2 separate regions of the Homo sapiens genome follow, and region 1 is linked to region 2. The links come from fine-mapping of genetic effects on gene expression. Tissue or cell type: lung. Region 2 holds a variant in brackets; the other region holds the start of a gene. All regions are shown on one strand. Distances are between the middles of the regions.

What was found. PIP is the estimated chance that this variant, and not a neighbour inherited with it, causes the effect.
Region 1: SLC12A7 starts here. The variant in region 2 is fine-mapped to the expression of SLC12A7 in lung (TOPMed, PIP above 0.99).

Annotation. Positions count from the first base shown.
Region 1 is chr5:1,107,588-1,115,587 of GRCh38, reverse strand. SLC12A7 (solute carrier family 12 member 7) reads left to right here and starts at 3,525. Exons shown (of 24, transcript NM_006598.3): 1 at 3,525-3,720. The coding sequence starts at 3,597.
Region 2 is chr5:1,072,635-1,080,634 of GRCh38, reverse strand. It overlaps SLC12A7 (solute carrier family 12 member 7), which reads left to right. Exons shown (of 24, transcript NM_006598.3): 10 at 1,139-1,237; 11 at 1,877-1,934; 12 at 2,628-2,802; 13 at 3,823-3,941; 14 at 4,399-4,497; 15 at 5,145-5,264; 16 at 5,964-6,068; 17 at 6,834-7,002. Among named protein-coding and RNA genes, the nearest start is that of MIR4635, 14 kb to the right of the region's middle. RefSeq lists enhancers at 6,559-7,113, 7,114-7,668. The variant G/A (reference allele first, on the strand shown) is at 3,070.

The DNA.
Region 1 (8,000 bases), 35 kb before region 2:
TGCGCCCTGCCTGATACCCGACAGCAGGTTCCCAGCCCAGAAGGATGCAGATGGCGCACCAGGAGATGAGCCCCCCACCCTAACAGGAAAGCAGAAGTGGACTGGGGGGACCCGCGGACCTGGGGAGAAGCTCCGTGGGCAGAGGCACACAGATACCTGGAGGCAGCCTGCGTCTGGTGAGAGCCCTCCCAGGCCACAGCCCTGATTCCAAGCCGTGGGCACGAGCGGCCTCCTGGCTTGGAAGCTGGCATTGGGTGTCCGTCCTAATCCATTAGAAACTCCACCCCAGGGTGGCAGGCAGCAGGGACTGTTTCGAGAATCTACACACAGAATGTAACCACCATCGGCTACACTTTCGCACTAAATCCCAGGGTTCCCCTGGCTGTGCCCTGCACACGGCCAAGAGGCCATCGCAGATGACCAGGCTCACATCATAAGGATGCGAGATTGCATTTGAAGAGGCCCCCTGGGCAAAGCTGGACACCGATGCTTGGAAAGGGCACTAATGGTGATCGACTGAGACCCACCAATGTGTTTCATCAGCGATGTACAAATATACTTGGGAGATTGTCGGGAACCAATTCACCGTTGTGGAAACTGACAAATGAGGGAGAGGCACCCTTGCCCTGCCTTTCCTGTGGGCACCATTATCCAGATGGCCAGACGGACAAGATGAGCCTCTCCCTCCAGTGAATTCATGACGAAGCCACCACGCACTGGAAAATCACCATTTTGCTCCATGAATCTGTCGATTCAGACATCAAGCACCAACGACTGCGGACGGAGGAGCTACCACCAGACAGTGCGTGGCTCCCTCTGCGAGCCCCCGGCCTTGCCAGGGGACTGGACCCGGATCCCAGCAGTCCCCTGGCTCCAGGTGCCCACTTCCAGGAGACGCAGAGGCCTGCACCGAAAGATGCAGCTCCAACCCAGGCCTCGGGTACCTCCACGTGTCCGAGGGCCACTTCCTACAACAGGTGCCGGGTACAGAAAAGGACAGAGGGATGGAGGTGGGTAGGAAGAGAGCACTGAAAGTCACACAACGCACATTTAACCCCAGGCTGCCGTGTGGGAGGATATACGTGGACACGGAAACCCACAGAGCGAAGGGAGGGGCCACCAGACCCCTAGGGATGGGCTACTGATGGGATGGGAGGGGCCTGCAGCGGCTTCTGGGCTCCGGCAAGGGTCTCTGTCTTGACCCGCAGGTGCTTACAGGGTGCTGATCCCTGTCGTGACTCACCTGATTAGAATGCAAAAGGCAGCAGACCTCACCCCCCACCCGAGGTCTCCCACAAGTAAGATCTAAGATTTAAACAAGAGAAGCCACCTGCCTTCTGCCTGGCAGGGCTGGGCACCCACCCAGGTGCTTCAGCCATGGCCCCTGGTCCTAGTCAAGATTTTGTAATCACAGAGAAGACCACCCTCGGAGCTGCCACAGGACCCTAAACTCCTGGGCCTCAGTTTCCTCCTCTGTAAAATGAAGCTGATGAGTCCTGAGTCCGGGAGCTGGCCCTGGCCACAGACCCTCCAAACCAGCTCCTCTGAAGGTCCACAGCCAGCACATGGCGGGCAGCCGGCCCTGGGGTCCTGGGGTGTGAAGCAGAGCTTGGATGTGCGACGGGAGCCCTGCACATCTGTTGCTCCTGCTGGCATCACTTGGGAAGGCCTCGTGCCCACCCTGAGCTCTGTCCAACCCTCGGGAATAGCGCTGGGTGGCAACCAGGGTTGAATGTACAGAAGCCCCTGCTGGGGTGACTGAGGAGAGGGTTTACCCAGCACCCTAAGTGTGAACCCTATAATTGACCCCATTGGGCACTTCTGTTCCCACCCCCTGGATCTTTTTAGCAAAGCCAGCCCTCCTCATAAGGATGCCTGGGAACTATTTTATCTTCTGGGGAGGTGATGGTTTCCTACCTTCCAACCCACTGACCCAGGGAGGCAGCTGACCTAGCACCATCCACAGCCCTGAGCTCCCTTTGGTGGGAGGTGGGGTGAGAGTGTGGAGCAGGCACAGCTCCAGACACCCAGGCCAGAGGAACCCCCACCTCTGCAAGGGCTGGTGCTGGATGGGCGACGTTCCAGGAGGGTCCCAGGCCTACAGCTTCTGCCCAGAAGAGTCCATGGGGCAAAGGGGTAGAACCCTAGGCCACCCCAGGGCATGACTGGCTTTACTGGAAATGGCTGGAGAGGTTGGGCTTGCGTTCCTTGAACCCACAGAGCCCGGTGATCCCACAGCCCGGAGGCCATCACTCCCCTCCAGCTGCCTTTTAGGATTAGACAGGCAAGCGGCTAAAACATGGCCAGGCCATACCCATTTTCCACGTGACAAGAGGCTGTGGCCGTGTTTGCCCACACCACCTGTGTTTCTGCTTTGTTGTCGTACAGCAGTTGTGGGTGATTAGGAATAAAGGCTGACTCATTGCACCTGTGTGCCATAGCATTTTAGCCCAATTCCCCATTGACGGACATCTGATTGTTCCGTTTTTCATGAGTCATTTGTTGAGAAATGTGCCAGGTGCTGGCCGGTGGTATCCTGGTGTCTGCCTGGTGGGTTCTGGAACTCCACCTTCCCTGCATCACCCTGTGAGCTTCTGGAACATTTCCCAAGGAGGGAAGGGAGGGTTCTAGGGCAGGGGCCGCGGGGCACTCCTGGGGCAGGTGTGGAGGAGACTGGGGTCTTCGTGGGTGGTATTTGTCATGGGTGGGGGGGGGGACTCCCTCTACTGGGTTAGGTCCCTAAACTGGAGCTGGACCAAGCTCCGGAGTACCCCACCCCCAGGCTATCCAAGGCTCCTTCCACTGGAGTTGCCTTTGCAGCCAGGTTGGGCTAGCCAGGAGCCAGGCTAGGAGCCCAGGGTCTGAGCGGGTGTTGACAGCCTGGAGTGGGTGGGCGGACTGTGTGGGAGGTGGGTGCTGGAGGATGGCAGGGGGGAACAGGAGGGGGAAGAAGGAGGGGTAGGGGGCTGGAGCAGGAAATGGGGGGCAAACAGGAGGGGGTGCGGGAGGGGGCGCAGAAGGAGGAGGGGCCCAGCAGGAGGGGGTGCAGAAAGGGCAGGGGTTCCAGCAGGAGGGGGTTCATAGGGGCAGGGGGGCCCAGCAGGAGGGGGTGCAGGAAGGGTGGGGGGGTGCAGGAGGGGTGAGGGGTTCCAGCAGAAGGGCGTGCAGGAGGGGCAGGGGGCTGGAGCAGGAGTGGGGGGTCGGGGAAGGGGACAAGAGGGGAGGCGGGGAGGGGGCCGGGGAGGGCGGGGAGGGCGGGGAGTTCCAGCAGGAGGGGCAGGGGGCTGGAGCAGGAGGGGGTGCAGGAGACTGAGCGGGGATTCGCGGGCTCTGCGATGGTCGGGAGCGCAGGCAGCGAAAGCCCCGCGTCCCGGGTCGCGGCGGTCAGACAGACGCAGCCTGGGTTGGGGTCCCTGCAGGAAGTCGCCGCGGGCCAACTTTTCGTGGGGCCGCGGGGCAAGCAGGTGAAGTCACGTGGCCCGGGCGGGGCGGGGCGGCTCGGTCGGACCCCGCCCCTGCCTCCAAGTCCCGTGGCGTCGGCGGGAGCGGCGCAGCGCGGGCCGGGCCGGGACGGGGACTGTCGGCTGCAGGCGGCCATGCCCACCAACTTCACCGTGGTGCCCGTGGAGGCTCACGCCGACGGCGGCGGGGACGAGACTGCCGAGCGGACGGAGGCTCCGGGCACCCCCGAGGGCCCCGAGCCCGAGCGCCCCAGCCCGGGTGAGCGCGGCCGCACCTGGCCGGACAAAGGCCGAGCGCCCCGAGCGCGGGTCTGGGCCCGGCATCCGGGAGCGGAGGCGGGCGGCGGGGCCGGGGGTACAGGAGGCGCCCCTTCCCGCGCCCCCACCGCCTGTTCTCGGTCCCCCACGAGGGCCCCCACCCCACGTTAGTGGCAGCGCTAGGGGGCGAGGGGCCCTGCCAGGGCTCCCGGTACGGTCAGCTCGGGTGGGACCGGGGGCAGAGGTGTGGACGCCGCTGCTGGTAGCCATGGAAACGGGGAGGGGCTGGAGCGCGCCTCCGGAGGGAGCCCGGGCCCCTGGGTGGTCCCTAGTGGGACAGGGGTGGCGGTGGAGACCCGGGCGGTTCGGGAGCCGGGGCGTCCTGCGTCCCCCGCGCTCTCCCTTCCCCTGCGCCGCGGCCGTCCGGTAACACTAGCCCGGGCCGGCCCGTCCTGCCCCCGCCTGACCCTGGAGGAGCCGCCCACCCCCCAGAGGCGGAACAGGAAGGACTGCGCCCTGGCTGGGGAGGGGGCAGCCACCGGGGCCTTGCTCAGGCCGCGTCCTCCGTGTTCCCGTCCCCCGTTCCGGGAATCTGGAGGTTTCTAGCACTTTCACTTTCTCTAGGGGGTGGGGACGGGGCTGGGGAGAGAATCCCCCAGCCCTGTTCCCTCCATCCTGGCTCCAAATCCCAGTTACTCCCCGGATCTCAGCCCCCTCTAGAAACCGGAGGCTCTTAGGCCCTTCCATCCGGAGTCTCTGAGAAGGTGTCCGGACTCAGTCCAGCCCCCACCCCGCGTGCTGGCAGTGCCCGCATGTGCCCGGGTCTCATGCAGTGGGTGGCAGCCTCCCTGCTCCCTGGCAGTGGAAGGAAGGTGAGGTCTGTCCAGGGACAAGTCCGGTGCCAGACCCCAGATCCTTCCTAACCCACCATCCCGGGCAGGAAAGGCCAGACATCCCCTCCAGGCAGTTTAGGAACCCGGAGACACGGGTGGGGACCCACCGTGAAGGCAGTGGCCTGGTGGCCTGGGGTGCGTCATCAGGGTCCCCGTGGCGGGCGAAGAGTGGTCTCAGCTTCCTCTGCACAGAGGCCAGCCCAGATCTTGGAAGTGGTCAGGCGGGGCGCCAGGCTCAACACCAGGTGAAGTGCTAACTAAGCAGGGTCCGTGAGTCCAAGCCCCTTCTCTCCAGTCACCACCGTGGAGGCAGGAAGCACCAAGGAGTGTGGGCCCTGGCGTGGTCTTTCTGTGTGAGCTTTGTAGCAACGCCCCCGGAACGCACTCAGAAGGAGCCTCTTCTTGTCTGGCCGGCCCCTTCTCAAGGCTGATCAGGTTCACTTTTGTCTTTAGACTGTAAGTGTCATTTGCTTTTAAGCCAGAGAGAATTTTGTGCTTGTTCGTTTTCTTGTCTCTTCTACTCTCAAGGCTGTTGAGCAGTGCCCTGGGCCTGTGTCTGCCCAGCAGGAAGTGGCCCTGGCTGAGCGCTGCCCATGTCGCTGCCCGCGCACTCAGGTCCTGCTACGGGCGTGTCAGGAGGCTCCCTGGCCTTCATGAAATTGAGAACGGGAGGGCATGGGCCAGGTGTGGGCTTCTGGACACTTTTGAGGGTGGCCCTGTGGTGTGAGCTGAACTTGGGAGATTTCTCCGAACTGGCAGAGAACTTGCACCTGGCGCTTTTGTGCTGGACCCGCTTCCTACTTCCACAGAAAGGGCCCGGTGCCCAGCCACTGCCAGGCTGTAACGGGCACGCAGCTGCCCTTCGGAATCCACTTGATCACATCCTGATCTTCAGCCCACAGAGGTGCGGCGAGGAGTCCCGTGATGGGCACGGAGCCTGGGGAAGGAGGCACAGGCTTTGCTTTTTGGTGGTGGTTGGGGGCGGGGGTCCTGCAGAAGCCGGAGCCCCTCCCAAAGGCCTTCTGTGTGGGGTCCACACCACAAGGTCACAGGCCAGGTCCAAAACTGTCCGGCCACAGAGTTACCAGCACCCAAGCTCTTCCTGACTCCATTGCCGTTCCCCTGAACGGTCTGTGGAGGTACTGGAGCTTCTGGGCTGGCGCCTGGGTGACGGCGAAGCAAGTTTGGGGGGCCTGGTGGGCTGATCCTAGGCACTGCCAGGTGGGCGTGGAGAGGGCGTCCTGAGCCACCCCAACTTGAGGAGCAGGGGCCTTGGTGTCCCCAGCCTGGGTTGGGGGGTTCTGGGGAAAGAGGGGTAGATGCTGCTGCCCGGGCTGCCTGGCTCGACCCAGAGCCCAGCAAGGCCGCGTCTGCCCAGCCTGGCTCCAGGGGCCTTCTGTCCCCGACCCCTGCAGCTTCCCTGCTGCTTCTGGTGGAGCCTCTGCGGGAGGCGTCCTGTCCCGGGGATGGGCACTGTGCCCTCAGCACTTCTTGGGACGGAGCTTTTATTCTTATGTGAAATACCTCGTCTTGAAATGAGAAGGACGTGTTAACCCTCAGTTTCTCAGTGGGGTGGTTTTTTGAGAGTAGGAGGTGGGAGGACACTGCTGGGGGCCGGCTGCGTCTCGTCCGACTTCAGGGTAGAGTGGGTTTTGTAACTGACTTGGGGGAGCCCACCCTTCCTCCGTGACCACATCAGGGTAGACTCACTCCTTCCCAGGTTGTAGGGGTGCGTCCAGAGGCCTCGGAGACCCTGGGAGGGGTGGGAAAGGAGGGCTGGCCAGTGCCCCGGCCTGTCTGGAAGGTGCAGCGTGCAGAGCCTCTGTCAAGGTCCCACAGGCCCTGGCCACCCACTGTCTAGGAGGGACTTCCACTCGTCTGGGGCTCCCTGGGCTGGGAGAGGGTGGGTCCTGCCTTGTACCCCCAGGTCTCCCACCCTCAGCTGGGGCTCTCCCAGGTTTGCCGGGAGCTTCTTCCTGGCTTGGGCGCCACTTCCCTCTTTGGGTTCCGTTTCTGAGATTTTCCACTGTGGCTGAGCTCGTGTCGGTTGTCCAGGGGCGGTCCTGCCTCCCTCTGCCCCTGGCCGCTGACAGAGGCCCGGTTGCGTGGTCAGTGGCCTGCCCGTCCCTCCTGCTCCAACTACCTACCGTGTCCGTGTTGGGAGCCCCCTCCCAAAATCTGAGGACAGCTAGAGCTGCCGCTTTGTCCTGGGCCGTCCTCGCCTGTCGGGTGCTGGGTGCCATGCTCTGCACTGCCCTTGGGAATGGCGAGACGGTGCACGCCGGTCGTGCTGATCTGGGGTCCCCTTTGGGGATGCAGGGACTTGGGGGATCACGCATTAGATAGGGGGACCACACACAGAGCGTCCAGGTTCTGTCCTGCCGAGTAGGGACAGAGAGCTCTCGTTGTGCCCAGATTTCAGGAGGGCGTTCCCGACACGGACATGGGAGGCAGTCGGAGCAGGAGGGACAGGCAGGCTGTTGACCCCGCGGCTGTGCCCGGGAGCCCCTGCAGCAGCTGGGCACTGCGTTGCGGGAACGGAAGGTCATGGGTATGTGGTGAGCAGGCAGGGAGGCTACAAGACATGCATTTTGTGTATCGAGTTCCCTTTTTAAAACCAAAGGAAACAAGATACACAGGAACGCCGTGGCTGCTGGGCATCCAGGCCGGGGCCTGTGCTTCCTCCTGCGCCTGACATACTCCCAGGCTGTCTCCCGGCAAGAGGCTCTCCTTAGCAGGCATGCGGTAAAGCATGGTGCTTTAGGTCAGCTGGCCGGGTCCATGTGTGCGGGCACCTATGTGCCTTGTGAGCGTGCAGGTGTATCCACGTGTGAGCCATGTGCTTGCACTGTGTATATGTGCACATATATGTACACACGTGTGCATACATGTGTACTGTGCTCTTGCACAGCTGTGTGCTGTGGGCATGCTCACGTGTGTGTGTGTATGTGTGTGTTTGTATGCTGTGGCAGGTAGAGAGGGGCTGGGGCTTCCTCCACAGCAGAGGGTCACGCGGTGTTGGGTGTTGGGTATCCGTTCCCTCCCCCTGGTCTAGGCCCATCAGTGAGTGGTGAGGGGCTCCCTCTCCTGGTGTGGCCTCGTGTTCAGGTCTGAACCTGCTCCTGGGCCTCTGATCATATGAGGAGACCTTTGCCTCGTGGACTCAGGTTCATGGTTTCCTCTTCTGCAAAGCTCCCCAGGCTTCTCTGAGTGGGCGAGGCCAAACGGATTCCACGGTGGTTTTCTGTCTAGCGTTGGACACCAGATCCCCTTCTTAGAGTGCGTGGCTTTCTCAGTGCCTCTCCCGTGGTCTGGATGGCTGTCGGGAAGGTGGTGCCAAGGGGAGGGCCAGGTGCTCAGGCCTGGGTGCAGGGCGGCTGGTCGGGGC
Region 2 (8,000 bases):
CACTCGGCCTTCTTGTCGGGACGCCCCTGACAGGCGCTGGCTGCTTGTGCAGCCTGCAGCTGCCCTTCTGGTCCCTTCTGGTCCCTCCCACGTCTGCTCCCGGACTTCATCTCAGCACATCCGAAAGCCCTGGAGCCCAGGGTCAGCTGCAGGGCCTGGCCACAGCGCTGGCTTCTCGTGTTTCCCTTGCCTCCACTGAAGGTGGGCCCGTCTTGCTATGGAGGGGGTGATCTGCCGGGGGTCCTCTCCCTGTACCTCCGCTCCAGCCTCCCCCGTCCGTCTGAGTGCGCTCCGCGCCGTGGGTGGAGGGCGTGGGGGCAGAGCCTCTGCGTGGCTCCTGGTGTCTCCGCGCCGTGGGTGGAGGGCGTGGGGGCAGAGCCTCTGCGTGGCTCCTGGTGTCTCCGCGCCGCGGGTGGAGGGCGTGGGGGTAGAGCCTCTGCGTGGCTCCGGGTGTCTCTGAGCCGCGGGTGGAGGGCGTGGGGGCAGAGCCTCTGCGTGGCTCCGGGTGTCTCCGCGGCACTGGATTGTGGGCTCTGCTGCCTCCCAGGCCACCCCGAGCAATGGGTGCTTCAGGCTGCGCCTTGGATGGGACCGAGCCAGGCGTGAAGTGGCCCCCACCGACCCGGCTTCCCAGAGCTTTGTAGGAGCCGATTGTGTGGAAACATCCCCGGCCGTGGCTCCCTAGAGCAAGGTGGTGCCACAGCGGGAGGGGTCGCAGCGTCTGCTGGCCTGGCTGGCTGGGCTGAGTCGTTCTAGGATCTCATTCCCAAAGTCCTTAGGTCCTGGGGGCCTGTGAGCCATTGCTCAGCACCGTCTCTGGGCTGACCCTTGGCCATGGGATTAACACAGGCTCCAGAGAAGCCCTGGGTGTGGGGGGCGTGGGGGTCAGTGACGGGGTCGGTTCTCGTCCTCGGATCCAGGGGAGCAGTAGACGTGGGTGCTCATCCGCGTGCCTGGGCCCGCATCCCCTCAGCCGCAGTATTGCAGCGTGGGCTGGCGGAGCTTGGACTGCAGCCTCGGCTGCAGCTCACGCTCGGGGTCTCCCCAGAGACCGCCTTTCCAGCTTTCTGGGCAGGGGCTGCCATCACATGGCACTGACTCCTCAGATGGGTCTTTGCAGCATTTTCCATGTTCACAGGTATCATGGCGGGTTCAAACCGGTCCGGGGACCTCAAGGATGCACAGAAGTCCATCCCCACGGGGACCATCCTGGCCATAGTGACGACGTCTTTCATCTGTATCCTTGGAGGGGTGCAGGCGAGGGTTCCAGCCTCTGCCTGGGGGGAGGCCCCCATGCCCTCCCCGGCTCAGCATCATACCCTCGGCCACCAGCATGTGACTTCCCAGGTTAGGCTGTGCTCTCACCACGTCATCCTCCCTGGGAGACGGGGCAAGGGCTGCTGTCAGGACCCTGGCTTCTTCACCACTGTGTGATGCGATCGTAGAGAAAACAGAAGCAGTCACCCTGCCGCGTGTGGACAGTGATGCGCAGCGGTGTGTGGGGTGTGCCGCCGGCAGGCTGGGCCCGCGGGGCCTCTGGCTTCTCAATCCCAAGGCTGCCTCTTTCCAGCCGAGCATTGTCCCCTCAGCATGGTCCCCTGCCAATCCCTGGCGGTCAAGCACCAGGCCAGGTGTGTGTCCACCACCCCAGGGCCCCGTTCTGTGGCGCTGGACAGAGCCCCAGGAGGGTGCGCTGAGGACACGGGGGACAGGACGTGCCCGGGATGGGATGGGATGCAGAACGGTCCCCGCCCACCTGGATCCTGCGGCCCGCTGGCCAGTGCATCTCCCCACCCACCCCACCCCACCCCACCCCACCCCCCGTACCTGAGGACCCTGCACCCACGGACCTGCCTTTCCTTGACGAGGGCTGTGGATCTCTCCTGCATTGTGCTGTTTGGGGCCTGCATTGAAGGCGTGGTCTTACGAGATAAGTACGTTTCCACCTGCAGTTTTCGTGCAAAGCCTGTAGTCTTCAAGGGTTTTCCTGAGGATGAATTCGGCTTTGAAATTACATCGCCCTAGGACTTCATGTCCGCGTGCAGAGCTGAAGGCGTCCTGGTCCCAGGGTTGGGATCCCTTGGTCTGATGTGTCGTCTCTTCCGCTGGAGCCTAGGGCCTGGGGAACCGTTCAGAGCCAACTCCAAGCCCTGATGCGGCTGGGGGCGCAGGCCCTTCCTGGGGAGGCCACAGGGGTGTGGACGGGTGAGGCTTGGCCCTGGGAGATCCCTCAGCCCTGCTGGCAAGTGGAGAAGTAGTGGGGTCCCAGGCAGGTCATCACTGACCCTGCATCCTCATGGGGTGTGCGTGTCTGGCAGCCCCAAGGCCCCGGGGGTCCTGGGTGGTCCCTGACTGAAGCTGATGCCAGGCTGGGTCTTCCCTGCTCCCAAGAGCGACCCTGAGGTGAGCAGGACCCCCTCCCCCGCTGAAGACCCTCCAGAGCATTCTGGCCATGCTGGGCAGAGCCTGGTGGAGGTTTCAGCCAACGGGGACTGGAGGCCGGGCCTCAGCTTTCCAAGGAGTCGCCCCCACTGCACTGGGCCCCTCGCTCTGGGTGGGAGAAGACATTTTGTCTGACTCAGGCTCACTTCTGAAAGCCGCCCGCCCGCCTGCCCGCCTGCCTGCAGGTTCGGGGAGGCCCTGCAGGGGAACCTGGTCATCGGCATGCTGGCCTGGCCCTCCCCCTGGGTCATCGTCATCGGCTCCTTCTTCTCCACCTGCGGTGCCGGCCTGCAGAGCCTCACGGGGGCACCGCGCCTACTGCAGGCCATTGCCCGTGACGGCATCGTCCCCTTCCTGCAGGTGAGTCCCGCACCCTCGTCGGGGGGACCCTGGAAGGTCAGGGTCGGGGGCTCTCCTCCCCTGCGGGATCCTCACAGTGCCGTGTGTGGGACGCATGCCCGCGGCTTGGACCCCATGGTGGTCATTCTGCCCCTGGCCACTGCACAGAGCATGGGAGTGGTGGGAGGTGGGTGGTGGGCAGAGGCAATTCTAGCCCTCCTGCCTGCAGGTCCCTCCGAGCTCGGCCCCGGGTGTGTCAGGAGCGGCTGTGAGGGCCCACAGCCACGT[G/A]TCCAGAGGTGCCTGGTCTGTTGTCTGGTCAGAAGCCCTCTGCCTGCCTGCCACATCTTTCTCTGTGTGGCTGAGCTCTTCAGCCCGTGGGAGGTGGCGTCACCAGCCACCTGCAGCCAGTGTGTGTGGCTGCTCTGAGGATTGCACGGACGCCCGCATGGGTCCTGTCCGTGTGCTGTGCCCAGAGCTGCCGATTGTGGCTCCTCCTGCTACCTGGGCCCAGGGGCAGCTGTGGGAAGGTCGTGGATGGCAGAGCCATCCTTGCCCGTCGCTGGTCCCTCGGCAGGGTGCCGACCCGCAGGGCCTTTGTGTGGTTGCATCTTCAGTCCCAGCCGGGCCTAGGGCATGGTGTCCAGGAAGGGGACAGGCACACAGGCCCCGTGGGCCTCAGCTTCTGGGAGGTGAGGGTGGCCTGATGAGAAAGGTCACCACAGGGTCTGGGGAACCGCGAGTGCCCTGGAGACGCTGGTCCTGTGTTGTGTGGTCGGGGAAACTGAGGCGGGGGGGCAGGCTGGGGCCACACAGGTTGCAGGCAAGCCGGGCGTAGGCACAGCTCTGAAGCCTCCTGGGCTGCAGCCCTTTGTCAGGGCTTCTTCCCAGGCCAGCCGCGTGATGTCCCGGGGACCTACTGTGAAAGGCGTTTCTGCTGGTCTGTGTCTTTAAGATTCATCTGGGCTAGACCTGACCAGCCTGCAGCTTCTCTCCTAAAAGGGTGGTGTCATCTGCCCCATCTTCCTGCCCTTCTCCCTGCAGGTGTTTGGCCACGGGAAGGCCAACGGGGAGCCCACGTGGGCGCTGCTGCTGACAGTCCTCATCTGCGAGACTGGCATCCTCATCGCCTCTCTGGACAGCGTGGCCCCGATCCTCTCCATGTGAGCCCCCACAGGACGGGGACCTGGGGATGGGTGTATGGGCCTGGAGCGTGGGGCAGTGTGGATGGGAGGTCCTGCTCAGGACAAGCAGTAGACAGGCATGGCCAGCTGTGGGCAGTCAGGATCCTGCCGGGAAGGGAGTTGCGCCGGGGAAGACAAGTACACAGGCCTCCAGGCAGCCGCCCGCTGGGGTCAGCCAGGGACAGTGTGGCTGGACAGACGGCTGCTGGGGAAGGGACGATGGCCCATCTCTTGATGGACCAGGTGGTCACAGGATGGCTGGAACCTGAGGGGGCCTGATTCGGAATCAGTCTGAGTCAGCTCACGTGCAGAGACAGACATGGGGAGACAAGGCGCAGGTGGGAGGGACAGTGACAAGGGTGGTCTCCCAGGTGGCAGTGACTGGGGGCTCAGGGGGGCCCAGTGGGCCCGTATCAGTGGCCGGCCGTCCCTGCAGGTTCTTCCTCATGTGCTACCTGTTCGTGAACCTGGCCTGCGCCGTGCAGACCCTGCTACGTACCCCCAACTGGCGTCCACGCTTCAAGTTCTACCACTGGTGAGGCCACTCAGCACGGGCGTGAGGAGCCCCACAGGCTGGGACACTGGGTGCCTCTGCCACTGGTGAGGCCGCTCAGCACAGGCGTCAGGAGCCCCACAGGCTGGGACACTGGGTGCCTCTACAAGGCCAGCTGCTCTGGGCCTGAAGACCCCAGCGCGTCCTTGACTGTTCCTTTGCGGAGTAAGCCCCTGCGCAGCTGATGAGACTGCACCTGAGGAAGGCCTCTGGTTACGAGGATGCCCAGGTGTCTGCATGTGCCTTGTACCTCCCGTGGTCAGCCCAGCCTTCCCAGGCTTGGGGCGTAGCCCATCAGGGCTGTGGGTCTTCTTAACTCCCCTCCCCAGGAATCAGGCGCTGGGTGGACGCTTCAGCCCCTTGTTGCATGCACAGCCGAGGTGCTGTGTGCACGCTGGGAGCTGGAGCTATGTACTGGGTTTTGGAGTGACAGCTCCCACAGGGGCCCAGGGAGCCACGTCACCCCTCAGAGGTGGTTGAGTACAGCCATGGTCGTCAGGCGTCAGTGACTGTTTTCCTAGTGTTAACAGAGAGTTTTACTGAGGGAGGGGCAGTGTCCGTGTGGTGGTGGCTGAGGTGTGGGGGCTGCATGGCGTTGGGCCGCCCCGAGCCACTTGCCCCGCCCCCAGGACCCTGTCCTTTCTGGGTATGAGCCTGTGCCTGGCGCTGATGTTCATCTGCTCCTGGTACTACGCGCTGTCCGCCATGCTCATCGCTGGCTGCATCTACAAGTACATCGAGTACCGCGGGTAAGCGCTGTCAGCCCCCCTTACAGACCCGGCGCACGGGAGGGCGGGCCCCTCTCATGCTATGCCTGGGGCAGCTCCCTGGAGGGGCCTCCCTGGGGCTTGAGCGTCGTGTGCCCTCACAGGGGCAGCTGGGAGCACGTCCAGGTGGGCTGTGTTGTGAAAGCTGGGGTTTCCCTCCCACTTCCAGCCAGGCCGAGGTGCCTGCACTTGTGGACAGGGTCTCCAGCCTGGAGCTCTGTCTCGTGCCGTCCTCAGCAGGCGGTGAGCCCACGGCTGACTATTCCTGCTACGTGTCTCGCGAGGTGTCCCCAGGTTGTGTCTGTACTCACTCGGCAGCCACAGGCGTCCTTCCCCGTGCCCCAGCACCCACCCTCCCTCCACCTGCACCCGCCTCGTGCCCGGGGTCCAGCCACTTCCCTGTCATGGGCCTCCTGTCCCCCGTCCTGTGAGGAAGGCACCTCACGCATGCTGGACGTAGACCTCGTTCCCTCCACAGCCACAGCACCCTCTGACCCGGTGGCTCCTAGGACGGGCTCCCTTCAGGGCAAGGGTGGGCATGGAGGCCTCCCTCCTCATCCAGGGACTTTTCCTGGGGGTCCTGTTTGCCCCAACTCACCTGCCCCCAGAAGTCCCCTTTCCCAGGTGGGAGAGGAGCCTCCAGGTACGCGGCTGGACAAACCCCGACTTCCTTTCCCACAGGGCCGAGAAGGAGTGGGGCGATGGCATCCGTGGCCTATCCCTGAACGCCGCCCGCTACGCCCTGCTGCGCGTGGAGCACGGTCCCCCCCACACCAAGAACTGGAGGTGAGCACCGCCCATGCCCCGTGGTCCTCAGACGCACAGAAGAGCTGTTTCTGAGGTCGGCCTTTGAGTGGGGACCTTTGAGTCTCAGGGGCCTCTCACCTTCAGCCGCTCAGGCAAGGTCTGGGGTGTGAACACTGCCTGGTGCAGAGCGGATGGCGCAGCTGGGGGCCGGGGGTGTCCCTGCTGCAGGGTGGGGGTGTGGGGAGCCGGCCCCTCTGCCAGCACAGCCCTGGGCTTGGGGTGGGAGAGGGTGGCTCCTGCTGAAGCAAAGGCCATCTTTGGGAAGCCTCTGCCCCTCAGGGCCTCGGCGGGGGCCTCAGGTGTGTGCCCCGGGCCATTGTCCCCTCAGGGGCCTCGGCGGGGGCCTCGGGTGTGCCCCGGGCCATTGTCCCCTCAGGGCCTCGGTGGGGGCTTCAGGTGTGTGTCCTGGGCCATTGTCTCACCTGTCTAGCATGTCACCTGTCCCACCTGTCTAACCTACCTGTTCTCCTGTCCTGCCTGGCTAGTGCCCACCTGTCCATCGGCCCTGCCTGTCCCACCTGGCTTCTGTGGCCTGTCTCACCTGTCACCTGTTCAACTTACCCCACGTGTGTCACGTTTCCCCATCCCATCTGTCACCTGCCCCTTTTGTCCCCTGTCCCGCCTGTCATGTATCTCCCGTCCCACCTGTGTCGTGTGCCCCGCCCGTCCCATCTGCCCTGCCTGTTGATGGGCCGTGCCCTGGTAAGCGTTGCCGTGGTAACAGCCGCCCCACCCTGGCTGCAGGCCCCAGGTGCTGGTGATGCTGAACCTGGACGCGGAGCAGGCCGTGAAGCACCCCCGCCTGCTGTCCTTCACGTCGCAGCTGAAGGCCGGCAAGGGCCTGACCATCGTGGGCTCGGTGCTGGAGGGGACGTACCTGGACAAGCACATGGAGGCTCAGCGGGCCGAGGAGGTGGGCCGGGCGGGGTCTGGGGGCCAGGCCTCTTTCCCACCCCAGCTGCACAGGAAACGTGCCCTGGCATGTCCTCATCGCAGCGTGTCAACACGGTGCTGTGCGTGGCGCTGCTGTGTTTTAGCCGTGGCGGTGGCTTTGAGCTCAGAGCAGCGCGCTAAGGCCTGGGAGCACCAGCCGCACCCCGGGAAGCTTGGGAGGTGTGAGGGCCATTAGCTTTCCAAGGGCGAACCCTGGGACCGCCTCCTCCCGCCATGGGTGAGCCCCGTCCAGAGCCGTAATCATGGTTCTGCTGCAAGCTCAGTCTCCCGCTGTTCAGGCTCACTGGGGGCTGCATAAGTGTGATGCCCGTGTGCTGGGGGCTCACTGGGGGCTGCATAAGTGTGATGCCCGTGTGCTGGGGGCTCACTGGGGGCTGCATAAGTGTGATGCCCGTGTGCTGGGGGCTCACTGGGGGCTCACTGGGGGCTGCATAAGTGTGATGCCCGTGTGCTGGGGGCTCACTGGGGGCTGCATAAGTGTGATGCCCGTGTGCTGGGGGCTCACTGGGGGCTCACTGGGGGCTGCATAAGTGTGATGCCCGTGTGCTGGGGGCTCACTGGGGGCTGCATAAGTGTGATGCCCGTGTGCTGGGGGCTCACTGGGGGCTGCATAAGTGTGATGCCCGTGTGCTGGGGGCTCACTGGGGGCTCACTGGGGGCTGCATAAGTGTGATGCCCGTGTGCTGGGGGCTCACTGGGGGCTGCATAAGTGTGATGCCCGTGTGCTGGGGGCTCACTGGGGGCTCACTGGGGGCTGCATAAGTGTGATACCGTGTGCTGGGGGCTCACTGGGGGCTGCATAAGTGTGATGCCCGTGTGCTGGGGGCTCACTGGGGGCTCACTGGGGGCTGCATAAGTGTGATACCGTGTGCTGGGGGCTCACTGGGGGCTGCATAAGTGTGATGCCAGTGTGCTGGGGGCTCACTGGGGGCTCACTGGGGGCTGCATAAGTGTGAT